Linked DNA regions of Homo sapiens. The protein of the gene in region 1 purifies or fractionates together with the protein of each later gene. This does not show direct contact. Each region holds a gene or a part of one and is shown in the gene's direction. Other genes may lie near its edges. The genes, in order: PSAT1, TIMP2, ACAT2, TMEM150C, ITM2C, SLC35F6 and THADA.

Region 1 (3,500 bases):
CTGGGGAATCTGGTCATCCTTCACACCCAGAGCTCTTCACTCATTTCTGAACTGCCTTGACCCAGGACTTCCAGTCCTTTTAAGAATAAACCTCTTTCTAGGAACTCCCACCACCCCCTCAGTTGCCTGCCTGGAAAGCGTCATCCCAGGCACTTGGTGTTCTGTGGGACCTTGTTACTGGAGTAGAGAGGAGGCTGTACTCTGTCTCTCCTCTGTTTATAGCTGGAGACTCCCAGGCTGTGCCTGAACTCACTTAGATTTTCAGGAAATTCTTCTTTTCTTTGGAACTATGGAAATAGTTGAGCAACATGGCCCCATGGGAGGTGGCCACTTTTAAAGAGGAATACCTAGAATTAGAATTTGCAATTTACCACCACCTTTGCTCCTCATTTTTGTCTCTGAGAAGATGCACCCCCTCCCCACTTCCATGCCCCCTGACTCGTAAACCAGCTCCTTAACATAGTTCCAGGTTGTTTGCTGGGGGTTTCACCAGCCCTGCCAGTGACCTTGGCAGGGAATTCTGGGACTAGATAAGACAACCATCGAAGCCTCCAAGTTGATTCCATAGCCCAGTCACCCACACTGTGCTGACTGACCCCATGTTGAGCCCACGTGGGCCGTTTAGCACCTTGGGCTTAGAAGCCCCATTTTGCCACGGTGGTGCGTGTGACCTCGTGCAAATGACCTAACTGCTCTAAGCCACAGTTTTCTCATCTGTACAATGGAGGTAATGATACATACTTCTTAAAATTGTCAAGAGAATTAAAAGGAAATGCTTCTGAATCAAGAATATATAATATAAGGATTGAGAGCATTTTTACATTAAGGATTGAGGACTCTTGTGCTGGTTAATTTGTATAAAGTGCTAGAAACAGTGGTTGGCACACAGGAAGCATTCCTTGCATGTTAGCTCTTAATATCATTATTTGTGGTTATTGTTATATAAAGCAATTATGATATTCCTGACACACAGTGCTTATATAAGCTTATGTAATATAATTAATTATATAAGTATATAATATATATTAATTTTATTATATAAGGATGTCCAAGTGACAGATTCCATGTCTGGATCTGAGGTCACCTTTATCACCTTATGTGGGTACCAGGCCTTAGGAAAGAGAAGGAGGCACGTGATGGGTCTAGCGAAGACCCTAAAATAAAATGAAGCAGGCAGAGTCCTAGGCACCTTACACATGTGAATGCATTTTGTTGTCATCACAACCCTGTGAAGTAGACATTGAGCCTATGCAGCAGAAGCACAGATAGGACAAGGATGCAGCTGGAAAGTGGGACCAGCCAGGCTACGAACATGGGGGTGGAAGGCTCATTCCAGAACCTCTGCTGCTGTCTATGTCCAGGAGTGCAGAAGGCCTTAAACATACAACTCAAGCTATAAAGTAAAAGAATGACGTATTTAATTACATGAAAATTTTAAAATTTTATATGGCTTAAGACATCATAAACAGAATCAAAAATGACAGAATGAGAAAGATTTTGTAGTATATTAAACATAAAGGTTACTATCCTTAATTTAGGCAAGAACCCACAGATGAATGAAAAAGGATAAGGAAATAAAAGTGGGGGTGTGGTGGTTGCTAACAGTATGAGGAAACAACTCAGAAGAAATGCAAGCTGCCTCATAGACAAATGGAAAGATGCCACCTTCATTAGTTCCTTAGGAAATGCAGATTAAACCCATGAGATATGTTTTGCCTTTCATCTGCATACATTAAAAGGATTGATAACATCTGGTGCCAGCAAGGGCATGCACTTTTGGTGAGAGTATAAATCTGGACAAATTTGGAGCAAAGATTGCAGCGCTCATTATAATTCAAAACTTACATGGGCTTTGACCAAGGATTTTGATGTCTACAGATTTACCCTTCCCCAGCACTCTGCCTGGGTACAGTGGTGTGCACAAAATTAGGGACCAGCAAGTCCAATGTAAGATGTAATGGTGGAAATATGCAGTTGTGCCCATCAGTAGGGGTCTGATGAAAACAATGAGGATCTGTGGGTAATATGGAATGACTGCATTGAGAAGGATGAAGCGGGTCTCTTAGCAGACATGGGAAGATGACTGTGTTATGTCATCAGACCAAAAGGAGCAAGAGCAAGTGTAGGAAAAGACAAATCTATTAGTCTTTAAAAACTACAACAAGGCCAGGGACAGTGGCTGATGCTTGTAATCCTAGCACTTTGGGAGGCCAAGGTGGGAGAATTGTTTGACCCCAAGGAGTTTGAGACCAGCCTGGGCAACATAGTGAGACCTCGTCTCTACAAATAATAATAATAATAAAAAATTAGCCGGGTGTGGTGGTACATGCCTGTAGTGCCAGCTGCTTGGGAAGCTGAGGCGGGAGGATCGCTTGATCCCAGGAGGTCAAGGCTGCAGTAAGCTGAGATTGGACCACTGCACTCCAGCCTGGGTGACAGAGTGAGACCCTGTCTCAAACAAAAACAAAAACAAAACTACAAGAGTTATATATACATACATATTTACACATAGACACACATACATGTATACATGCATATGCACACAGACGTACATGTGTATATCTAAAATGATCTTCAGGAATGCACAGCAGACCATTAGGGTAGCCACCTCTTGTGGGAAGAGGGGTGGCAGATCTTCATATTTTTATTCTAGATTTTCATAATCATGTACAAATTTAAAATTAATTTTTTGTTGACAAAACCAGGCAGTAAGGAGAGGCCTACATAGGGTTGCATTTGGTAGGCTTCTCTTCACATACTCTTCTTTCTCATTCCCTGTGTATCTGACACATCCTTTCAGAGGGGCCTGACTGTGGAGTGATGTTTCTTCACTGCCTGCTCATCTCCTGTGACTTTCTTGCGTTCCCTTCTGAGCCTTACCACCTTCGTGGGATGGGTGTCCCTGGCTGAAGGTGTACCTCTGCCATGTTCCCCTCCTCCAGTACCTTGGAAAGTCCCGGTGTGTCCCTGAGCAGCGTGTCTCCGAGGGGACTGTCTGGAACTCTCATCCCCACAATAGGAAGGGTTTTTCAGTCATGGGGGAACACTGCGTTCCTGTCTGACCTCCTGGGGTTCCTCATTTACGTGGTCGGTGAGCTGTTGAGAGGCTTCAGGAAGTCAGGAGTGAGGAGGTCTGCCTAGCTCTGTGAATGCAGCTTTCCTAAGTTTCTCTGGCCATGGAACCACTTTCCCAGAATGCCTGTTGACATCTTCGTGCTCCACCAAGATGTTGGGAAGTGCGGCTCTTTCCCTGGTTCCCACTTGGACTTTCTCCTTAAATCTTTGCAGCCCTGGGATTTCCAGCTGGTTCCATGCCCATCCATAGCCCACATAGCCTCTCAGTCTGCCTTGGCCCCTTCTCCTACCTCGGCCCTCAACCCATTCAAACAACAGACCTGGTCACCTCTGAAATTTGGTGTTAACTCCAGGGATTGATTGCTCACTGGGGAGCAGGGGCTAGATCCAGCCCACAGTGGTGCTTGACGGGGTCACCCATGTTT
Region 2 (3,455 bases), on another chromosome or scaffold:
GCACCTGGCCTGAGGGATGAGTTTTTAAATGACTTCCATAGCTGTCATTAGGTTCTGTCAGCCACTGGAACACACTGCTTTGTTCTTTTCCTCCTGCTTGTAAAACGCCAAGGCTATTGCCAATGTAGTATCTTCAGCAAAGGAAGGAGGCAGCTGAGTCAGGAGCCGGAAGTACAGAAAGAAGCCACAGCTCATCATGCCTGATGAAGGGAATTCAGAGCAGATTCCTAATTTTCAAAAATTCCATGCTTTGGCTCTTCATAATGGAAAAATGCAGAATTATAAGTTTAAACTCAAATGGGAGAAGCACCTGTGAATTAATATTTTGTGAAAAACAAAACAGGAAACAATATAATCTACATACTGCATGACGTTTTATGTGTGAAGATGCACATAGAAGAGAATATTGGCCGGGCGCAGTGGCTCACACCTGTAATCCCAGCACTTTGGGAAGTCAAGGTGGGAGGATCACTTAAGCTCAGTTCAAGACCAGCCTGGGCAACATGGTGAAACATCGTCTCTATCCTTTTTTTAGAATAAAATTTAATTTAAAAGAATATTGGGGCCAGGCGTGGTGGCTCATGCCTATAATCCTAACACTTTGGGAGGCCAAAGTGGGGGTATTGCTTGAGCGCAGAAGTTTAAGACCAGCCTGAGTAACATAGCAAGACCCTGTTTCTACAAAAAAAAATATAAAAAATTAGCAGGGTGTAGTGGTTCACACCTATAGTCCCAGCTATTCAGGAGACTGAGACGGGAGGATCGCTTGAGCTTGGGAGGTCAAGGCTGCAGTGAGCTATGATCATACCATTGCACTCTGGCCTGAGCGACAGAGCAAGACTGTCTCAAAATCAATAGTGGAATATTGGAAGGAAATACATCAAAATATTAGCTGTGGGTAATGAAAGTAGGGAATTTTTTTCTTTTCTTTTTTTTTTTTAGACTGAGTCTCGCTCTGTCGCCCAGGCCCAGGCTGGAGTGCAGTGGCACCAACTCGGCTCACTGCAACCTCCGCCTCCCGGGTTCACGCCATTCTCCTACCTCAGCCTCCTGAGTAGCTGGGACTACAGGTGCCCGCCAGCACGCCTGGCTAATTTTTTGTATTTTTAGTAGAGACGGGGGTTTCACCGTGTTAGCCAGGATGGTCTCGATCTCCTGACCTTGTGATCCACCTGCCGCGGCCTCCCAAAGTGCTGGGATTACAGGCATGAGCCACCGCCCCTGGCCAGGAAGTTTTTTCTTTGTTTCCAATGTTTAAGTTTCTGTCAGTGAACATGCATTATGGCTTTCTTTTTTTTTCCACTTTTTATTTTTTTGAGACGGAGTCTTGCTGTGTCACCCAGGCTGGAGTTCAGTGGCGCGATCTCGGCTCACTGCAACTTCCGCCTCTGGGGTGCAAGAGCGATTCTCCTGCCTCAGCCTCCCAAGTAGCTGGGATTACAGGCGTGTGACACCACACCCGGCTAATTTTTTGTATTTTAGTAGAGAGGGGGTTTCATCACGTTGGCCAGGCTGGTCTTGAACTCCTGGCCTCAAGAGATCCACCCGCCTCAGCCTCCCAAAGTGCTGGGATTACAGGAGTGAGCCACCGTGCCTGGCCACCCACTGTGTTTTAACTCAGAATAGACAGTGCACAGGATTGTTGCAACGAAATCCCAGCGCCCCTGCGCCGGGTGGAGGAGCTGGGCAGGAGGAGGACTTTTCCCTCTCCCTGAGCTCGGTGATCCCCGTCTCTCCGCAGGAAAGGCCGAGGGGGACGGCAAGATGCACATCACCCTCTGTGACTTCATCGTGCCCTGGGACACCCTGAGCACCACCCAGAAGAAGAGCCTGAACCACAGGTACCAGATGGGCTGCGAGTGCAAGGTAAGCAGGTCCTGCCTCTGCTGGAGCATCGCCTCCTCCCAGTGTCTCCAGATGGACGGCAGGGATTTTGATCCCTGGCTTTCCAGGACCCGTTAATCCCCGGCTCCTGATCTAAGACCAGGCTCTGGGAAGGTAGAGTCATCCCAAGAGTAAGGCTGTCTGGCTGGGGACAGAGCCTTTGACCCCTGGTCCCTGGAGAGCCCTGAGGCACATCTCTGACAGGGGATGTCTGGAGGCCGGGCGCTGCGGCTCACGCCTGTAATCCCGGCACTTTGGGAGGCCGAGATAGGTGGGTCACTTGAGGTCGGGAGTTGGAAATCAGCCTCACCAACATGGCGAAACCCTGTCTCTACAAAAATACAAAAATTAGCCAGGTGAGGTGGTGCACGCCTGTGATCCCAGCAACTTGGGAGGATGAGGCTTAAGAATTGCTTGAATGTGGGAGGTGGAGGTTGCAGTGAGTTGAGATCACACCACTGCACCCCAGCCTGGGTTGACAGAGTGAGACTCTGTCCCAAAAAAAAAAGAGGGAGATGTCTGGAAGGCTAGGAGATTTGAGAGTAAGAGCATGAATTCAGCTCTGTTACCTGTAGCTTCCAGAAAAAGGAGCTGTATGGGGAGAGAGAATATGGTCCCATGGAGAATTTTCTACAAATGTGCAAGTGCAAACGCCTGTGTGGCTTATGAGAAGGCACTGCAGGCCTTACGCTGTTTCCAACATTCCCGACATTTTCACACCTGGGTTGGTGTCTATGTGGGGTCTGTGTGTTGAGAATACCTGAACACCTGCTCCTCTTAAAATGAGCCCGGAGGTTGTGCCAGGCACAGCTGGAGCAGTGCAGCGCCTAGATGTGGCTGTGGAAGGTGAGATTACCGCCTCCAGGGCTCCCAGGCTGGCTCCTACCCTGTGGGCTCCTAGCACCCTATCCCCACCCTCCCTGCAGGAAGCATGGCTGAGTGCTGGGCACCTCCCACCCTGGGTCACTCCCAGTGAGTCTGGGACCAGGAGACTCTGGTGAGGCTGTGGGGATTGGCCTTCCCTGGGGAGCTGCCTGGGGCTGCCCTCCCTCCTGACGGCCCCCAGCCCCTTCTCCGCATGTTCAAAACAGGAATTCTGAACTCATAGTCTCCAGCCACACGTATGTTAAGCGAAACTCCTCTGTGCCCAGCATGAAATCAAAAGCAAGTTTTTCCTTTTTCTTTCCACGGTGGTGAAGGCGGTCATCCTCTTGTAGCCTAGGGTTCCTTGGCCAAATTGCTAGTTGCCGATGACCTCGGGGCTCGGCTTGCGAGCAACACTGGGCTGGAATCTGTCTCCAGGAAACCCAGGCCCTTTTATTGTTGCTGTGTCCCCCAGAGGGCAGGGCCAAGCTGAGGCCATTCTGTCATGCTCAGGAAGGTAGAAGATGGCCCAAAGGGAAGCACACCTGCAGTAGGAGGGGGGGCAGCGGTGGGCAGGGCACAGCTTCCCTGCAGGTTAGACCCCCTCGCAGGCCAGCTGCCTGCCCCTGCAGGAACCGTGGGTCTCGGGAGAGGCTGCCATCCCTGCACATGACAGGTAGGCACATTGCCGGGTTCTGGACATGCCC
Region 3 (4,300 bases), on another chromosome or scaffold:
ACAGGTGTGAGCCAAGGTGCCCGACCTGATGTGCTTGTAAGAATTTAAATGAAGAGGGTCAGTCAGCTTAGGAGACGAGGTTAGATGTAAGGATTTCAGACTTGTCAGTATACAGGTGGTGATTGATGCCGTAGGAATGACTGGTATTACCCAGGGAGCTGGTGCAAAGTAGGAGCCTTGGGGAACATGTTAAGGGGATGTGAGAGTAAGCCCACAAAGACTCAGAAGTGGCCAGGGAGTAAGGGGAAAATGGGATAGAATAGAGCAAAAGCCACGGGAGGCATTCCTTGAATTCCTTGGACTCAGATATGTTAGGGGACAGGAAACACATTGAAGACAACTGAAGAGACTTCAGTGTGCTGCTGAGTTCTTAGCAGAGTAGACAGCTGATTTCACCACTATTCCAGACCCTAAAGATTTCTCCTGAAATTGCACTGTTATGCAATTTTTTTCCTTCTCTATTGCCCCACCTCTGGGGCCTACACTCTTTACCTTCTCTGATTTATCTGACCCATCCGCATATCTCTGCAAAGTCTTAATGTAGGTTTCCAGGATTTAATGATTCTTTCAATCAACTTTAAAGTTCTTCAGGAAGATTCTCCAGGTCCGTCAACAGTTTTCCCCTTCATGACTTTGTGACAAAGCTTTCTTGTTCCACTATCCAGGTGTTCCCAACAAGTTGCTGTAACGGTGGCCCCTCATAAGCTTGCCTGGAAACCCTAGAAAGCTCAGAAAAATTATGAACTTTGCCCAGTAAGAGGCTGGGAAGTCAGAAAGGGTTTTAAACAAAACTGACCCCACTTGTTACATGCTCCTTTCACTGTCCAAACGTCAACCAAAGGAACTTTTGTGACGCTAAGACGCTCCCGGCGTCCTCACCCGTTCACAGCCAGAGTTGATCTTAGAAGGCAGGGGGCTCGCACCGAGACGCTCCTAGCAAGCCCCTCACGCGAGCGAATGACTGGCGCCAGGAGAAACGCATAGGACCTCCCGAAGCCGCCGAGAGCAAAAGGACCCATCAGAGCTGTGCTGAGACCCGCCGCGGGCCGGGCTCGCACTCGAGATTCTCGCCCGTGGGATTCCAGTCCTGAGCTGAACGAGAGATAAGTCTTTGTCACCCCCCAGTCTTTACTGTTTCGAGAAACCCTAAGATTTTTTAAAAAAAAGCCCAAGACGTCAAGTCGGGGAACTCCAACATTGGGGTGTCCAGAAACACTGGGGTTTCAGGCGCTCTGTAAATGCGTCCGAGGTCCGCGGTTCTGCCCGCAAGCCCAGACCCCGGCCTCACTTCCGCCCCGCGCCCCGCGCCCCGGCCTCACTTCCGCCCCGCGCCCCGCGCCCCGCGCCCCGCGCGCCTCCGCCCGCCCCTGCTCCGGCCTTGCGCCTGCGCACAGTGGGATGCGCGGGGAGGTGGTGCGCGGGGAGGTGGAGGGCGAGGGGCGGGGCTACCTCAGGTCCCGCCCGCGGCAGGCCTGTGGGCTGCGAGGAGGAGCTTTGCCTAGCTTGCAGGCAGCGCAGGGCAGACGGCGGCAGGAGAAGCAAGATGAATGCAGGCTCAGATCCTGTGGTCATCGTCTCGGCGGCGCGGACCATCATAGGTGAGTGGCCGGCGGGAGCCGCGCAGAGTCCGAGGCGCCTGCTGCTTCGGCAGGAGCGCCGAGGGCCGGACTTGTGTAGGAGAGGGGCGTATGTGGAGGAAGCCGGTCAGGCCAAGCCGCGAGGAGCCGCGGGATCCCTGGAACCCTGCGGCTCCCGCGTTCCCTGACCTGGTGCTACAGCCCCACCCTCTCCTCTCCCGATGTGCGCACTCCGTCCCTCGTGCTTGGATTGGCTCCCGGGGTAGAGCCATCGCGTGGCCTGCCTCTCCCATTGGTTGGCGTAGGGAGGTGTTCTCCTCCGGGGCCCCTGATTGGCCGGCTCCGGGAGGCGCCATCGGTAATGCCTGCGGCAGGGGCGGAACTGCTAGGTGGTCTGAGCCCGGCTTTGGGCTGGGGTCGGGCTGTCACACAATGGCTAGAAGTCGTGACTTCGTCTCCTTCGTGCCGCATGGTTTTCAACGCCCTTGACCCGCCGGTTCCTTTTGTTTGGGAAGCATGGGGTCGCATCCAGTCCTTCGGATTTGGGGAAATAGAAGGGCTACAGCGGCGTCCCTAGGCCGTTCTGGAGGTCGCCTGTCCAGCCCTCGGCTGCTGCGAGTTGTGGCACCCACCTTGACCTTTGCTCAGACCAGCAGGTGTAGGAACGTGTGGGAGGAGAGGGCACTGCCTCCTCGCGTGGCCTTGCCAAACAGGGTCATGAGGCTCCCCTGCTCGTAGGTGGTTCCCGTATTACCCGCAGGCTTGTGATGTCCACGCTCTCCGCCTTTCTATTGTAGGTTCCTTCAATGGTGCCTTAGCTGCTGTTCCTGTCCAGGACCTGGGCTCCACTGTCATCAAAGAAGTCTTGAAGAGGGCCACTGTGGCTCCGGAAGATGTGTCTGAGGTCATCTTTGGACATGTCTTGGCAGCAGGTAAGTCTCAGTGATTCCAGGAGAAGTCAGGCTTATTAGAAACAGCCCATAAACACACACACACACACACACTCTCACACACTCACACACTCTCTCACTCACTCAAGTTCTTGCCTCCTTGCTTTTGCTCAGAGTTCCCTCTGTTATGATTCCTCCTGTTGGCCCCCTTCTTCCAGCCCTGTCAGTAGCTTCTATCCAGCTTGAGACTCAGCTTCTTGGCCAGGCAGGGTGGCTCCCGCCTGTAATCCCAGCACTTTGGGAGGCGGAGGAGGAAGGATCACTTGAGTCCAGAAGTTTGAGACTAGCCTGGGCAACAAAGCAAGACCCCGTCTCTACAAAAAATAAAATAGCCAGGTATGATGGCCTGTGCCTCCCAGCTACTGGAGAGGCTGAGGTGGGAGGATCACTTGAGCCCAGGAGTTTGAGACTGCAGTGATTGTGTCACTGCACTCCGTCATGGGTGACAGAGTGAGACCCCTTCTCTAAACAAACAAAAAGACTTAGCTTCATTAATATGCTTTTTGTGAATGAACTTAGACCACTGACCTACACCACCTACACTGCCTTTTCTTTTCCTTTTTTTTTTTTTTTTTTTTTTTTTTTTGAGACGGAGTCTCTCTCTGTGGCCCAGGCTGGAGTGCAGTGGCGTGATCTCGGCTCACTGCAAGCTCCGTCTCCCGGTTTCACGCCATTCTCCTGCCTCAGCCTCCCGAGTAGCTGGGACTACAGGCGGCCCACTGCCTTTTCATTCTTACGAAGCAGGGCCGGCCGGGCCCGGTGGCTCACGCCTGTAATCCCAGCACTCTGGGAGGCCGAGGTGGGCGGATCATGAGGTCAGGAGATCAAGACCATCCTGGCTGACACGGTGAAACCCCGTTTCTACTAAAAATACAAAAAATTAGCCGGGTGTGGTGGCGGGCGCCTGTATTCCCAGCTACTTGGGAGGCTGAGACAGGAGAATGGCGTGAACCCGGGAGGCGGAGCTTGCAGTGAGCTGAGATTGTGCCACTGCACTCCATTCAGCCTGGGCAACAGAGTGAGACTCCTTTTAAAAAGAAGAAGAAGAAGCAGCAGCAGGGCCAGCCTGACGCATAGGAAAGTATGCCTGCTCCTCCTTACTACCTCAAAGTGTCACTCATTCAACAAAAATGTATTCAGTTCCTCCTATGTGCCCCATACTGTGCTTAGTGCTGGGAGTATGGTTCCAACAATACAGGTAAGTTCCCTGCCCTCTTAGGGCTCAGTTCTGAGCTTGGAAAATAGGTGCCACATCATGCCCCTTGCAAATGGGGCATATCACTCCCCAGAGGAATATAGCTGAGTCCTGAGAGTGCCCCCATCTTCTGATTCTTTGGGTTTGAACACTCGTAATTAATTAATTAATTATTATTATTATTATTTAAAGAGACAGGGTCTCACTCTGTTGTCCAGGCTGGAATGCAGTGGTGTAATCAATCGTAGCCCACTATAACCTCAAACTCCTGGGCTCCACGGTATCCTCCCACCTCAGCCTCTGGAGTAGCTGGGATTACAGGAGCAGGCCACCACACCTGGCTAATTTTTTAAATTTTTTTGTAGAAGTGGAGTCTGTCTGTTGCCTGGGCGTGAGTGCAATGGCTGTTCACAGGCACAATCATGGTGCACCATGCCCTTGAACTTCTGAGCTAGCTGGGACTACCGGTGCATGTCTACTAAGTTTAAGGCTTTTAAAGCACTGTGCTAAATGCTTTCCTTTCATTACCTCATTTAATCTTCCTCACAAGTCTGTTATATCCTATTATCTTCATTTTA
Region 4 (3,156 bases), on another chromosome or scaffold:
AGCCCAGGAGTTTAAGGCTGCAGCGAGCTAAGATCGACTCTGTCTCTAACAATAAATAAATAAATAATAAAGGCCTGGTGCCGTGGCTCATGCTGTAATCCTAGCACTTTGGGAGGCTGAGGCAGGAGGATTGCTTAAGCCCAGGAGTTCAAGACCAGCCTGGGCAAGATAGCAAAACCTGGTCTCTATAAAAATTTGTTTTAGAAAAATTAGCAGGGTGTGGTGGTGTGCACCTGTAGTCCAAGCTACTTGGGAGGCTTGCGGGGAGGATCACTTGATCCCAGGAATTTGAGGCTGCAGTGAGTTGTGATCATGCCACTGCAATCCAGCCTGGGTGACAGAGTGAGACCCTGACTCAAAAAATAAAATAAAATAAAAGGCAAAAATAAAAGAAGTGTTCACTCCAGTAAGGCCCTCCTCAGAAAACCAGAGAAAGGAATCAAGGTTCCTAAAGGGTAGATTGTACAGAAAATGCAATTACACATCTTCAGTCATAATAATCACCAATTTTTAGACAGCGTGCTAGGCATTATTCTAAGTACTTTAAATGTATCAACTCTTTTTATCCTCACTTCACATGTAAGAACAGTGAATCATGGAGAAGTTTAATTTGCGCAAGATCACACAGATAATGCGTGGTGGATCGAGATTTAAACTCAGGCTCAGCTCTTCACTCTTAACCACTTCAGACCCCACCTTAGAGAAAGTAGCTTTAGAATGAAACAATGGCATTCGCAGCAACCTGGTTGGAATTGGAGACCATTATTCTAAGTGAAGTAACTCAGGAATGAAAAACCAAACATCCTGTGTTCTCACTCATAAGTGGGAGCTAAGCTGTGAGGACACAAAGGCATAAGAATGACACAGTGGACTTTGGGGACTCAGGGGAAAGGATGGGAGGGGGATGAGGGATAAAAGACTACAAATTGGGTGCACTATACACTGCTTGGGTGGTGGGTGCACCAAAATCCCAGAAATCATCACTAAAGAACTTATTCATGCAACCAAACACCACCTGTTCCCCAAAATCCTATTGAAATATAAATAAATAAATAAATATAAATAAAAAGTTCAAAATAGCTAGAAAGAAATAAAGTATATCAATTCAAAGAAAGAGAGAGAAAGTAGCTTTAAAATATGAATAGAAGCAGACCCTAAGATGAGGGGGGGAAAGAATAAAATATGAAAACACACACAGTTCAGAGCCCATTCTCTAGTTAGTGGAGTATTTGGACTATTTATTTTTTCTTCATTCACAAATTCCTGTTCCACCATTTTGCTGATTTTCCAAAGTTCTACAGTCACATTAGATAGAGAACATTTAAGGACTTAAGTTCAAGCCAAAAAACTTGGTTCTTGCTAGCAACCTAATAAATACTTTATGAACAAAAAGATCAAAACTCTGCCAATATAAGATAAAAGGAGATATGCTTTCTCCATTAATTTAAGTAATAAGTTAATATTGCTTTGGCAATATTTTGCATCCTTGTTCAAAAGAGTGTGCAGACTTTAAATCACTCCGAGATGTTTTTTGTGATTTAAGACAGGGTCTCATTCTGTTGCCTAGGCTGGAGTGCAGGGGCATGATATTGGCTCACTGCAACCTCCACCTCCTGGGTTCAAGCCATCCTCCCATCTCAGCCTAGAGAGTAGCTGGGATTACAGGCACACACCAAAACACCCGGCTAATTTTTGTTGTTTTAATAGAGACGTGGTTTTGCCATGTTGCCCAGGCTGGTCTCGAACTACTGGGCTCAAGTGATACACACTCCTCGGCCTCCCAAAGTGTTGGGATTACAGGCATGAGCCACCTTGTCCAGCCTATCCCAAGTTTTGAGCTTTCACCAAATGATTCTGATTCATGCTCTTTCTGAACACGTGGAATCTTTTTTTTTTCTTTGGTTCTCAGGTGAATGGATGAAGGCCCAGTTAGCAAAGCAAAGTTTGGCTGAAGTAATTTCACATTCTTGCTCTCTGAAAATTTCCCGATTTCAGGTCTAATTTCAGAAGATAGAACTAATTCTAAGGAGACATTTCTGATCTTTCTAAGTAAATGCATCTAGTTCCTCAGACACTTGGCCTTTCACTAAAGCTGCTATGAACTTTTTACCCTTCTTCCCAGCTCCTCCTTCCATTTATTCTGTTGTGTATATACAGATACAGATACACACAACACACACACATACACACACTCCATATATATATCCAGGCATAAGAGTCTCATTTGTTTTTCTTTTTTTAATGATGGGGCCTTGCCGTCACCCTAGCTAGAGAGCAGTGGTGCAATTGTAGCTCACTGCAGCCTCAAACTCCTGGGCTCAAGTGATCTTCCCACCTCAGCATTCCAAAGCACTGGGATTACAGGCATGAGCTACCCCACCTGGCCTCATCTGTTTATCATACAAGTTTAGACGTGATACGAGGAATGAAACTGGTCTATACAGTATTGTCTGAAAGACAATAGTGAAAATTAGAAGAGACAGGCCAGCCACTCAGACACGGTTAGTAGCACTGCAGAGCCAAACACAACTTACATGTCGGCAGTTAGTAATTTGATATGTTCAAAATTATTTCTGCAGATATAACGATAACTATGAATTCATAGTCATTTGCAGTGCTTTCTTCTTTTTTTTTTTTTTTTTTTTTTTTTTTTAAGATGGAGTCTCGCTCTGTCCACCAGCCTGGAGTGCAGTGGCCGGTCTTGGCTCACCATTTGCAGTGATTTTTTTTTAAAATAGCTTAATTTTTCTGGCAAACTAATTACTTTGGAAGTGTAATCCTTTTCCTAATCTCCCAGTTTTGTAAGCAGCTACAGAGTACAGCTATTGAATACATGGCGCAGGAGTTAGAGTGCTTGTTTGAGCCCAGCTCAGCCAATTAATACCTGTGTGACCTCAGGCAAGTTACTTACCCATTTGGTCTCAGTTTCCCTATTTTTAAACAAACTGACAATTATTTGGATAAGAGAGTATTTAAGGGCAAATAGAACATGTAAAAATGAGAAACAAAAACAATGATAATAGGATTGTTGTGAGGATTAAGTGATACTATCCATGAAAGCACCTAAAAGCATGTCTACCACCAAATATGAGCCCAATAATGTTAACTTATTATTCATATAGATTTTCGTGTTCAACAAGCTCTAGCAGGCTACCA
Region 5 (3,500 bases), on another chromosome or scaffold:
AGCCACCACACCCGGCCCAAAACAAGATGTAAAAAGTGATCCGCAGGAGGAGCACTCGGTGAACAGATGATTGTGCGGTGAACAGATGATTGTGCGTTGGGGCAGTTCTTGACCTGTGTCCAGGCCCAGAGTGAGGGCGGGGTGGGGGCAGGGTGAGGCGGCAGGAGCACCCTCTCGGTGGGCACTGCCCCTGCTTCTGAGCAAAAACTGCAACACAAGGAGGATTTTGTCTGTGGACCTGAGACTGGAAGGAAGTGCCTCAGTGGGCCAGGGAGGGATGGGGGTGGGGGCCAGCTGGGCTTCCAGCTGCCCGGCCTCCCCCCCTGGTGTTTTGACTCTGAGATAATGAGGAGCTGGGACACTGCCAGCTTGGGAAGTGGGCTGGACCGGAAGCACCCCCTGGGACAGCAAAGCACTCCCTCCCAGCGCCAACTGGATCCCTCCTCCCCTTTGGGGGCCCACTGGCTGGCCATGCCCCTCTTAGCCTGCCCCTTCTCCCCACACCCTGCCTGTGCCTGCACTCACACACACACACACACACACTTATGCACACACATGCACGCACAGATGTGGGCATGTAGAGGCTCACGAGCTGGGGCTGTAAGGGGAGAAAAACAAGTTAAATACAATCATCTTCTTACCTCTGTAATTTTCTCCTTGGCATTTGCCTTTGATTAATGGTCCTGTGTCACCCCCTCCCCAGCCTGCATACCTGGGGATCAGATTTCAGTTTCCTAGTGTGTCCTGGTCTCAGGCCCTCGGCAGGAGGAGCTGGGTCTCCTGGAGCGGTTGGGGGAGGGTCCCGTGCCAGCCAGGAGGGCAAATCTGGCCAGCTTAGCCCTACCCCAGTGTCCTGATGCCCACTGGCCAAGAGGGCCTGGCCCGAAAGCACTTTGTGGAGCAGCGGCCCTGCTCCATCCAGGTCCTTCCCTGTGGCAGCGTGGGGACTTTCATGGCTGTCGTCCATTCCTGGGATTTGGCGCCCCGGCAGGCCCCACGGTGGCTTCTCTGCTTTCCTGCCGCTTCTCTCTCCATTCCCTCATTTCTGCTCTCTTCTCTCAGCAGTCCTTGCATGTTTCAAGACCGTCAGCAGATTGCCAGTGAGGATGAGTTTCTCTTAGTGTGGAGAAAAAATGTTTATGGTGAAATCACAGAGGCACAACCTGGCCAGCCCCTCTGTCCACCGCCCCACTCTCTCCAAGTTCCCTCTCCCCATGAGGGCTCTTCCAGCAGTGAGCTTTTGTTGTCTGGAGATGCCTTGACTATCAGGGATGGAAGAGAAGAGGGAATTCGCCTGGCCCAGCCAAGCCGAGAGCGCATCTGCACAGATGCTGCCCGTGGGGCCTGCAGTCTGGAAGGGAGGACAGGAGAGTGATGGGGACCCCTGACCCTGTTGGCAGATGGCATCTGTGCCTCTGGACCACTGGGCTCTGTGTGCTCAGGTGGACAGTGTTTGCCCACTCTCCTCTCCCCCAGCTAGGCTCTGTCTTGAACACATACAAGACACACACACTCGGTGGGTGCCCTGGCCTCTGTGGTCTGGAGCCTGGGAAAGAAAGCTGCTGAGGACCAGGAGAGATGTGGGGGAGGTGAGATGAGACTGCCTCCCCAACCCCCATCTTCCCTGTTCTCAGCCTGGGCCTCAGGAGTGCGTTTCTGGCTGCCGAACCCCTCCAGGCAGGCTGCAATCTGCAATCATCGTTAAATCGGCTTGCAGTTAATTTGGACATTGTTACTGGGGGATGGGGCCCGGGAGCGCTCCCTTCCAGCTGTGGGGGTCTGCCGAGTTAATGCTACAGTTGGCTGGTTTCCCCCTGACCATTTTGGCCCTGGCTTTGGTAAATCATTTAATGAGTGCCCCTGTGGGTCTCAGTTTAAGCCTGCAGGGAGAGGCCCAGGCCTCTCTCGGGTCCCTGGACTTCCGGCTCATGCGCCCTTCGCTCAGAGAGCTCTGTTGCCTTGGAAACAATATGCAATATTTTTCTACTATCTAAATGGGAGCCCCCCTCCTCAGATACCTCACTGTCAGTAACTGCTTCCTATGGGGAGCAACATTTTTCTGGGTCCCCAGCATGATAGGTGGTGCGGCTGGGGTCTCAGGAAGGTGGGCCATTCGGCCATCTTTCTAGTGAGCTGGGCACCAGGGATCCCAAGGGGCCAGGGCTCTGGGTTGAGCCCAGGCTCCCTGATGCCCCACTGTCCCCAGACAGGTGTAAATACCCCGAGATCACAGGCTGCTTTGAGGGCCAAAGGGACAGTGAGGGTTCCAGGGCTTTGGTGTTTGAGCCTTGGTGTTGATTGGGCACAGTAGGCAGAGGCAGCGCTGGGGCGGGATTTAGGAGTTCTGCCTCTGTGTGGGGCTTTATGGAGGAAATGCCTTCGCCTCCAAGCAGGGACATCTGCGCTTTCCTGTCTACTTTCTGGTAGCCTGTAATGCTGCCTTCTGCACTTCTGCTCATAATGGTGCCTCTGAGGGTTTGGCTCTGCAGGCTGGAGCGGAGCTGGGAGGGTGGCAGCGTGGCTGAGCCCGGGTGTGTGCTGGGGGACATCAGCAGGGCCATGAGAGAGAAGTGCCCACCCGCAGTCTAGGTAAGGTGGGGGATCCCCAGCCTTCACAGTGAGGGGTCTTGGCAGGAACCCCTGCCCTTCTCTGCCACACCTGCCACTGCTGCTCTTCAGCTGGGGCCGTGGAAGCCTCACCTTCTCCCTGCTCTGTCTTCTCTAACCTCCCTCGGTGGGGCCTCCGAGCCCAGCCCCTCCCCCAGGACAGGGAGACACGGGACCCAGCTCAAGTTCTGCAGACCAGCATTAAGGCGGAAAGGCGGAAAGGCGAGGCTGCCCTTTGCCATAAAGCTAGCAGGCCTCACCTTGTCGGTGAATTTGATTTGTGGAGCAGGCCCTCGGGCTCTCCCACGTAGCGCTTTGACTTTTTTTTTTTTCCCTTTTCTGTCTTTCTGGTTGTTAGCAATCTCACAAGCTAGTTTCCCTGGTTTTCCAGAATGCAGAAGCAAAAGTCTGGCCACAATGCAGCCTCAACAGCTGTCCACAGAGTCAGCCCTAAAAAGGAAAGGCTCGGCTGATAAAGATCTGCTATTTTTATCTAGCACTTGATCCTTTACAAAGGGCTTTTAGGTTCTTTGTCTCGTTTAATCCCAGCAAAACCCCTGTCACGCAGAGTCTGTCCACATTTTGCATGGGAGACCCGAGAAGGGGGAGGTTGCAGGGCCCCGCTGGGCCTGTAGCCCCACTTGACCCCTAAATACAATCTGAGCCCTGGTGTTTGTTGTGTCCCGAGGGCAGATTTCCCAGCTGCTGTAGGCAGCCTGGCCTGTGTCAGGGTCAGCCACCTTTCCTTAAGACCTGCTCAGGAGCGCCAGAGGGGCAGGAGGGCATCCCTGGTGCCTGGTTTGCAAGAGCTCCTGGGTGGTTCGATCCCTGGGAGATGCCAACGGAAGGTGTCACCCCCGTCTCTTGCTGCTCCCGGGAGTCCATTGGAAAAC
Region 6 (3,500 bases), on another chromosome or scaffold:
AGGGAGCAAGGAGCACAGCTTCCAGCATCCCTTCCTCCAGGTATCTGGCCCTGTCCCTCCTACCTCCTGTCTCCCGGGCCTCAGACCAGGCGCCACCCCCGGCCATGAGGCCAGGCTGTTTCCTGACTTAGGAGTGGAGGTGTCTCCTGCTCCCAGAAGAGCCATCCACTTCTCTCTTTCCCTCCCCAGAGCAGAATCCAAGGTTTAGAATAGGGCAAAGAGCACCATCCTCTGCGAAAGTCCTGGCAAGTGGTCATGTCCTCACCACATCCAAGTCAGGACACGTGGAAAACATCAGCCCTAGTGACAAAAGTCAGCTCTCTATCCACTGGGAGCCCAGACCCCAATTGGGACAGGGCAGACACCATAAATGGAAGACACTGTTCGTTGAACTGAGAATCAGGAGACTCAAATGTCAGCCCCAGCTCTACCAGCAACTTGCTTTGTGGCCTTACATAAGTCTTTGAGCCTCTCTTGGGTCTAGGCTTCTCCACCTGCGATTTGACTAGGGGTTGGCCTAGATGGATGGTTTTCAGACAGGGCTCTGCACAGCCTTAGGGTTCATCAGGATGTATGGGGGCTTTGGGGCAGACCTAGGAGGCTGTCTCTAGCCTCCATGGCAGCTCTGCATTTGTCTATTTTACATATTGGGGTTCTGGGTAAGCTCTTGTTTGACAAAAGTTTGCATTAAAAAAAATAGTTAAAGATGATCCCCGAGATCCCTTCCAGCTCTGAAGTCCTCGGGTTTTCATCCCTGCAGGCAGTGGGCATGTTCCTGGGAGAATTCTCCTGCCTGGCTGCCTTCTACCTCCTCCGATGCAGAGCTGCAGGGCAATCAGACTCCAGCGTAGACCCCCAGCAGCCCTTCAACCCTCTTCTTTTCCTGCCCCCAGCGCTCTGTGACATGACAGGGACCAGCCTCATGTATGTGGGTGAGTAACCAGGCCAGGCTGAGAAGGGCTCAGGGGAAGCTGTGGCTGAAGGGGCTACTGGTGAAACAGCCCTATCCCACCCACCTCCACTTCATCCCACCATTCCCCCAGACTTCACACGCACAGGCACACAGGCAGGACTGATCGAGCGCTTACTATGAGCTTGGCATGTCTATCACCAAAGACCCCTTAGTGACAGATGGCCTTCGCCTTGGGAAGCTAACTGTAATTTGTTTCTCCTTTCCTAGCTCTGAACATGACCAGTGCCTCCAGCTTCCAGATGCTGCGGGGTGCAGTGATCATATTCACTGGCCTGTTCTCGGTGGCCTTCCTGGGCCGGAGGCTGGTGCTGAGCCAGTGGCTGGGCATCCTAGCCACCATCGCGGGGCTGGTGGTCGTGGGCCTGGCTGACCTCCTGAGCAAGCACGACAGTCAGCACAAGCTCAGCGAAGTGATCACAGGTGCGGCCAGGGGCAGGGACACGGGGCTGCCCTATCCTGCCCTGTCCTCCTTGGGAGCCCAGCACAGACTCATACAAGCTCTGCCATGTGCCATATACCAAGCCCTGGGTGAGGTGGGTAGCTCTGGAGGTGATGGATAGAATGTAGGGAAGACTGCAAAGGGATGTGGCTCCACCAAGGATGAGTGGCAGGCCGGGCAGGGCGAGGGGCTGGCTTGTCCTTTGATACAGATGCAGACATGCAAACTACTGGATTTGGGAGTGGAAAGGAACAGGTGCTTACCAAGTGCCCAGCCTGGTGCTGAGCACTGTGTGTTCATCATCACAGTGACTCCCACAGGCCCCAAACGGATGCATCACAGCCCATTTTACAATGAAATGACTGTCCTGGGTCACTTAGGGTCAGGATCAACCAAGAAATGTCTATCTCAAAGCCTGTTGCTTCTTGAAAGACCTGCGTCATACCCCGTGGGGCAGCTCTTAGACACAGGCAGGCCTCTGGGGCCTTAGCCTGGCACTGCTGGCATGCCCCTCAGGAACCAGGGAATCAGGGACAGGCAGTGGTGACTGTGCCTATGAACTATAGGGGGCCCTGCAGAGGTCAGGGGCTGGCATGTTTGGTCGCTGTGGCCATGCTCTCCTGGCCCCCAGCCCCAGTGCAGCCCTGTTCTCATCTGGGTCCCTCCTTCCCCACAGGGGACCTGTTGATCATCATGGCCCAGATCATCGTTGCCATCCAGATGGTGCTAGAGGAGAAGTTCGTCTACAAACACAATGTGCACCCACTGCGGGCAGTTGGCACTGAGGGTGTGTGTGGGCACAGGGGCCTGGAAGGAGTGGGGTAGAAGGGAGCCTGGGGAGCTGAGCACAGGACAAGGTGCCAGGGTTCACTTGTGGGGGGTGAACTTCCTGCCCCGCCTTGCCTTCCAGATGTGTTTTGACAAGTCTTCTGACACCTGCTGTGTCAGGAACTAGAGGAGACCAAGGACAGAGATGAATGAGATGCAAGCCCTTCAGAGGAGGTGACCAGCAGGAAGAAAGGGCAGTCAGTGAATTCAAGTTTGGACCACTTGTGCTCAACTGATGTCTCATTGGCCATGCCTATCTGAGTCTCTCAGGGCAGGGAGGGTGGCATTCGAGCTGCAAATTTCAACAGGCAGTAGTAGGAGCAGCTCCAAACAGAGCAAAGGCACAGGGGACTGGATGTGAATTTGAAAACCAGTGAGGAATAATTTTGAGTGTGGCCAGGTGCGGTGGCTCATACCTGTAATCCCAGCACTTTTGAGAGACCAAAGCGGGTGGATCACTTGAGGTCAGGAGTTTGAAACCAGCCTGCCCAACATGGCAAAACCGTCTCTACAAAAAATACAAAAATTAGCTGGGCGTGGTGGCGCATGCCTGTAGTCCCAGCTACTCAGGAGACTGAGACAGGAGAATCGCCTGAACTGGGGGAGCAGAGGCTGCAGCAAGCCGAGATTGCGCCACCGCACTCCAGCCTGGGCAACAGAACGAGACTCCATCTCAAAAAATAATAATTTGAGTGCAGTATAGGTTTGATGTTGGGGAAATAATCAGGAATTAAGTAGGTCAGGGTCATGTCATTAGAGAACTTTACCATCAGGCAAGTAGATTTAGACTTTAAATGACGGAGGAATCACTGAAAGTTTTTGAGCAGGGAAGTAAGTATCAAAATTATGAGATTAGCAAGATACAGCTGCGCTTTCAAAGAATGTCCTGGGGGCTAGTGCCTGTTGGGGAGCAGCTCTTGTCTGGCCCCCGGTGAGCTAAGGGACTTAGGCAGAATGTGAATTAGCTATATCACTGAGCATGCAGTCTATTTCCACTCATTTCTGTTTTCTAGCAAGACCTTAATGAGTGAAGCAGTGCATGGACTTACCTTCTGGCGCAAGCTCCTTGTCACAGACCAGTAACACACTGAACTAGAAAGCTGTGTTTTTCCAAACTTGTGAAAATAATGTAGTCAGTTGCAGCTGGCAGTTCTTTTTTTAAATGAATAGAATTTTTAAATATCAGAGCATTGTATACTGTAAGGGTAATGTTTTTATGAGTGTGTGTGTGTGTGTGTGTCCATGAACCTGTGCACACGT
Region 7 (2,844 bases), on another chromosome or scaffold:
AGGAGATCGAGACCATCATGGCTAACACGGTGAAACCCCGTCTCTATTAAAAATTCAAAAAAAATTTAGCCGGGCGTGGTGGCGGGTGCCTGTAATCCCAGCTACTCGGGAGGCTGAGGCAGGAGAATGGCATGAACCCGGGAGACGGAGCTTGCAGTGAGCCGAGATCCCGCCACTGCACTCCAGCCTGGGCGACAGAGCGAGACTCTGTCTCAAAAAAAAAAAATGGTGCAGGATAGAGGCTACCTGTCCTGTCAGGTGGGGCTAGTGCAGCAGCCTAGCCTTCCTTGGTGGCATCTCTGGTCACCCCCATAGGTTCTTTATGGACTCAACAGGAATGTCACTTGAGCTGCAGATACTGATTTTGCTGATGGATGATGAAATTTTTTTCTTCCCTGTTGGGCTTTCAGTCCTTGCCTTAAGGAGACCATAAAAAAAGTGGTGGGAGGCCAGGTACAGTGGCTCATGGGTGTAATCCCAGCACTTTGGGAAGCCGAGGGGGCAGATCACTTGAGGTCAGGAGTTCGAGATCAGCCTGACTAACATGGAGAAACCCCGTCTCTACTAAAAATACAAAATTAGCCGGGTGTGGTGGCGCATGCCTGTAATCCCAGCTACTTGGGAGGCTGAGGCAGGAGAATCTCTTAAACCTGGGAAGCGGAGGTCGCGGTGAGCCGAGATGGTGCCACTGCACTCCAGCCTGGGCAACAAGAGCGAAACTCTGTCTCAAGACAAAACAACAACAACAAAAAAGTGATAAGCTGGGCACAGTGGTTCATGCCTGTAATCCCAGCGCATTGGAAGGCTGAGGCGGGTGAATCACTTGAGGTCAGGAGTTCAAGACTAGCCTGGCCAACATGGTGAAACCCCATCTCTACTAAAAATACAAAAATTAGCCAGCCATGGTGGCAGGAGCCTGTAATCCCAGTTACTCAGGAGGCCGAGGCAGGAGAATCGCTTGAACCCGGGAGGTGGAGGTTGCAGTGAGCTGAGATCACGCCACTGCACACAAGCCTGGGCAATACAGCAAGACTCAGTCTGAGAAAAAAAAAAAGAGTGATAAACCCACTGGGTGCAGCGGCTCATACCTGTAATCCCAGCACTTTGGAAGGCTGAGGTGGGTAGATCACTTGAGGTCAGGAGTTTGAGACCAGCCGGGCCAACATGGTGAAACCCAGTCTCTACAAAAAATACAAAAATTAGCTGGGCAAAAACAAAATTATCTGGGTGTGGTGGCACATGCCTATAGTCCCAGCTACTTGGGGGCTAAGGCAGGAGAATTGCTTGAACCCAGGAGGCGGAGGTTGCAGTGAGCCAAGATCACGCCACTGTACTCCAGCCTGGGCAACAGACTCTGTCTCAATCAATCAATAAAAGTTGAAGGGAAAAAAGAAAGAAAAAGGCCACTTAATTATCCCTTCTCTATACAGATTCTCAGCCAATTGAGAACTGCAGAAAGGAGTTAGGTAGAGGTAAAAATGGAGATTGTATTGTAGGTAGAGGCCCAGTCAACACATGGCTCAGACCCACAGCCAAAATGCACCTTCACCCCCTCCCCTTTTCTGTTTCCTGGTTTAAATCTGGGTTCTAGGCTGCAGAGCAAGCAGCATGGGGAACGGGGACACTAAAGGGCAAGTGTCCTGGGGGACTTATCTGGAGCTCTCAAGATGGTGAGATCAGTACTTTCACCTGCTTACATGCAACTAGGTGCTGCTGTGTGACCTCTGAATAGTCCTGGCCCTACTGCAGGGTCACTACCCCTGCTGACCCCACCATCAAAACCTCTGGATTGTTGATGCTGGGTCTCCAAATCTGCGCTTTGCATGCACCATGAAACTTGTTGCCAACTGTAATTTCTTGATGTGTGCAAGTGGGTTACATAATACCCAACCCATAGGATGCTAGAAGGACTGGGGAGACAGCATTTGATCAGGGCCTGGCACTCACTAGGCCCTCAGTGGGGCCATCCCAGTAAGCCTGGTTCAACACCCACGGGAACTAAGCCTGCTGTTGCAGATTCTCGGTCGTCTGCCTGTGTGCCGAGTAAGTCTTTCGGGGGCCAGATGGTCAGGGTAAGTCTGTGTGCTCAAGTTAGAGATGTGGATTTGGGAGTGATCAGGGCTCAATAGAAATGCATCATTGAAAGACAGGCCTTTCAATGTCAGTTGGTGCAAGATGGGCCTACAGAGGTCCATTGTGCAGTGGGCTTTCAGTCCCGTGTTTCAGACACCCTCCAGGTTTGGGATGGGAGGGGCAGAGTTGTTAGGGGAAGTGACAACACCCCTGAGCCTCCCTCCAAACCCATATTTAGGATTGTCTAAGGCCAAATGTTGAAATAAGCAATGGTTTCCCCAAGGCCCCCTGCTTCCTCTTTCTGCACCCTTCTATTCTTTCAGTGCCCTTCCTCCAAGCACCCAGGAAAACAAGGGTCCAAAAACAAAAAACTCCGAGACAGAGGGCAGCAAAATAGGAGCCAAATGCAGCCTACCACCTGCTTTTTACAGCCCATGAGCTATCAATGGTTTTTACATTTTTAATTGGTTGGGAAAAAATAATATTTTGTGACACATTAAATTCAAATTTCAGTGTCCATAAATAAAGTTTTATTGGAACACAGCCACAACCATTTGTTTACAGATTGTCCATGGCTGCTTTCAGCCGAGGTGAGGAGGTATAGGCTTGCAAAGTCTAAAATATTGACTCTCTGGCCCTTTAAGGAAAAGCTTGCCGATGCCCTGCTCTAGGATGTGTCTTGTGCCCAAGAGATCTGCTTTCCAAGGAAAGGGCAAACCAGTCAAATCCAGGCAGATGTGCAGAGGAGACACTGGACAGGGAAGCCTTCCT

Evidence for each region.
Region 2: the proteins of PSAT1 (region 1) and TIMP2 purify together in Homo sapiens (co-immunoprecipitation; one large-scale study listed by IntAct). This does not show direct contact.
Region 3: the proteins of PSAT1 (region 1) and ACAT2 fractionate together in Homo sapiens (co-fractionation; one large-scale study listed by BioGRID). This does not show direct contact.
Region 4: the proteins of PSAT1 (region 1) and TMEM150C fractionate together in Homo sapiens (co-fractionation; one large-scale study listed by BioGRID). This does not show direct contact.
Region 5: the proteins of PSAT1 (region 1) and ITM2C purify together in Homo sapiens (co-immunoprecipitation; one large-scale study listed by IntAct). This does not show direct contact.
Region 6: the proteins of PSAT1 (region 1) and SLC35F6 purify together in Homo sapiens (co-immunoprecipitation; one large-scale study listed by IntAct). This does not show direct contact.
Region 7: the proteins of PSAT1 (region 1) and THADA fractionate together in Homo sapiens (co-fractionation; one large-scale study listed by BioGRID). This does not show direct contact.

What each region holds. Positions count from the first base shown.
Region 1 is NC_000009.12:78,321,125-78,324,624, forward strand, and holds part of PSAT1 (phosphoserine aminotransferase), read left to right. Parts: intron 1-3,500. UniProt on the Homo sapiens protein: Involved in L-serine biosynthesis via the phosphorylated pathway, a three-step pathway converting the glycolytic intermediate 3-phospho-D-glycerate into L-serine.
Region 2 is NC_000017.11:78,855,933-78,859,387, reverse strand, and holds part of TIMP2 (metalloproteinase inhibitor 2 precursor), read left to right. Parts: intron 1-1,741; coding exon 1,742-1,866; intron 1,867-3,455. UniProt on the Homo sapiens protein: Complexes with metalloproteinases (such as collagenases) and irreversibly inactivates them by binding to their catalytic zinc cofactor. Known to act on MMP-1, MMP-2, MMP-3, MMP-7, MMP-8, MMP-9, MMP-10, MMP-13, MMP-14, MMP-15, MMP-16 and MMP-19.
Region 3 is NC_000006.12:159,760,545-159,764,844, forward strand, and holds the start of ACAT2 (acetyl-CoA acetyltransferase, cytosolic), read left to right. Parts: upstream 1-1,500; 5' UTR 1,501-1,543; coding exon 1,544-1,598; exon of another isoform or gene 1,599-1,788; intron 1,789-1,934; exon of another isoform or gene 1,935-2,093; coding exon of another isoform or gene 2,094-2,235; intron 2,236-2,374; coding exon 2,375-2,509; intron 2,510-4,300. UniProt on the Homo sapiens protein: Involved in the biosynthetic pathway of cholesterol.
Region 4 is NC_000004.12:82,485,833-82,488,988, reverse strand, and holds part of TMEM150C (transmembrane protein 150C), read left to right. Parts: intron 1-3,156. UniProt on the Homo sapiens protein: Nonselective cationic channel with high permeability to Ca(2+). Component of a mechanosensitive cation channel, confers mechanically activated (MA) currents with slow inactivation kinetics. May contribute to proprioception.
Region 5 is NC_000002.12:230,867,942-230,871,441, forward strand, and holds part of ITM2C (integral membrane protein 2C), read left to right. Parts: intron 1-3,500. UniProt on the Homo sapiens protein: Negative regulator of amyloid-beta peptide production. May inhibit the processing of APP by blocking its access to alpha- and beta-secretase.
Region 6 is NC_000002.12:26,774,284-26,777,783, forward strand, and holds part of SLC35F6 (solute carrier family 35 member F6 precursor), read left to right. Parts: coding exon 1-40; intron 41-760; coding exon 761-932; intron 933-1,180; coding exon 1,181-1,393; intron 1,394-2,088; coding exon 2,089-2,199; intron 2,200-3,500. UniProt on the Homo sapiens protein: Involved in the maintenance of mitochondrial membrane potential in pancreatic ductal adenocarcinoma (PDAC) cells. Promotes pancreatic ductal adenocarcinoma (PDAC) cell growth. May play a role as a nucleotide-sugar transporter.
Region 7 is NC_000002.12:43,233,195-43,236,038, reverse strand, and holds part of THADA (tRNA (32-2'-O)-methyltransferase regulator THADA), read left to right. Parts: intron 1-2,844. UniProt on the Homo sapiens protein: Together with methyltransferase FTSJ1, methylates the 2'-O-ribose of nucleotides at position 32 of the anticodon loop of substrate tRNAs.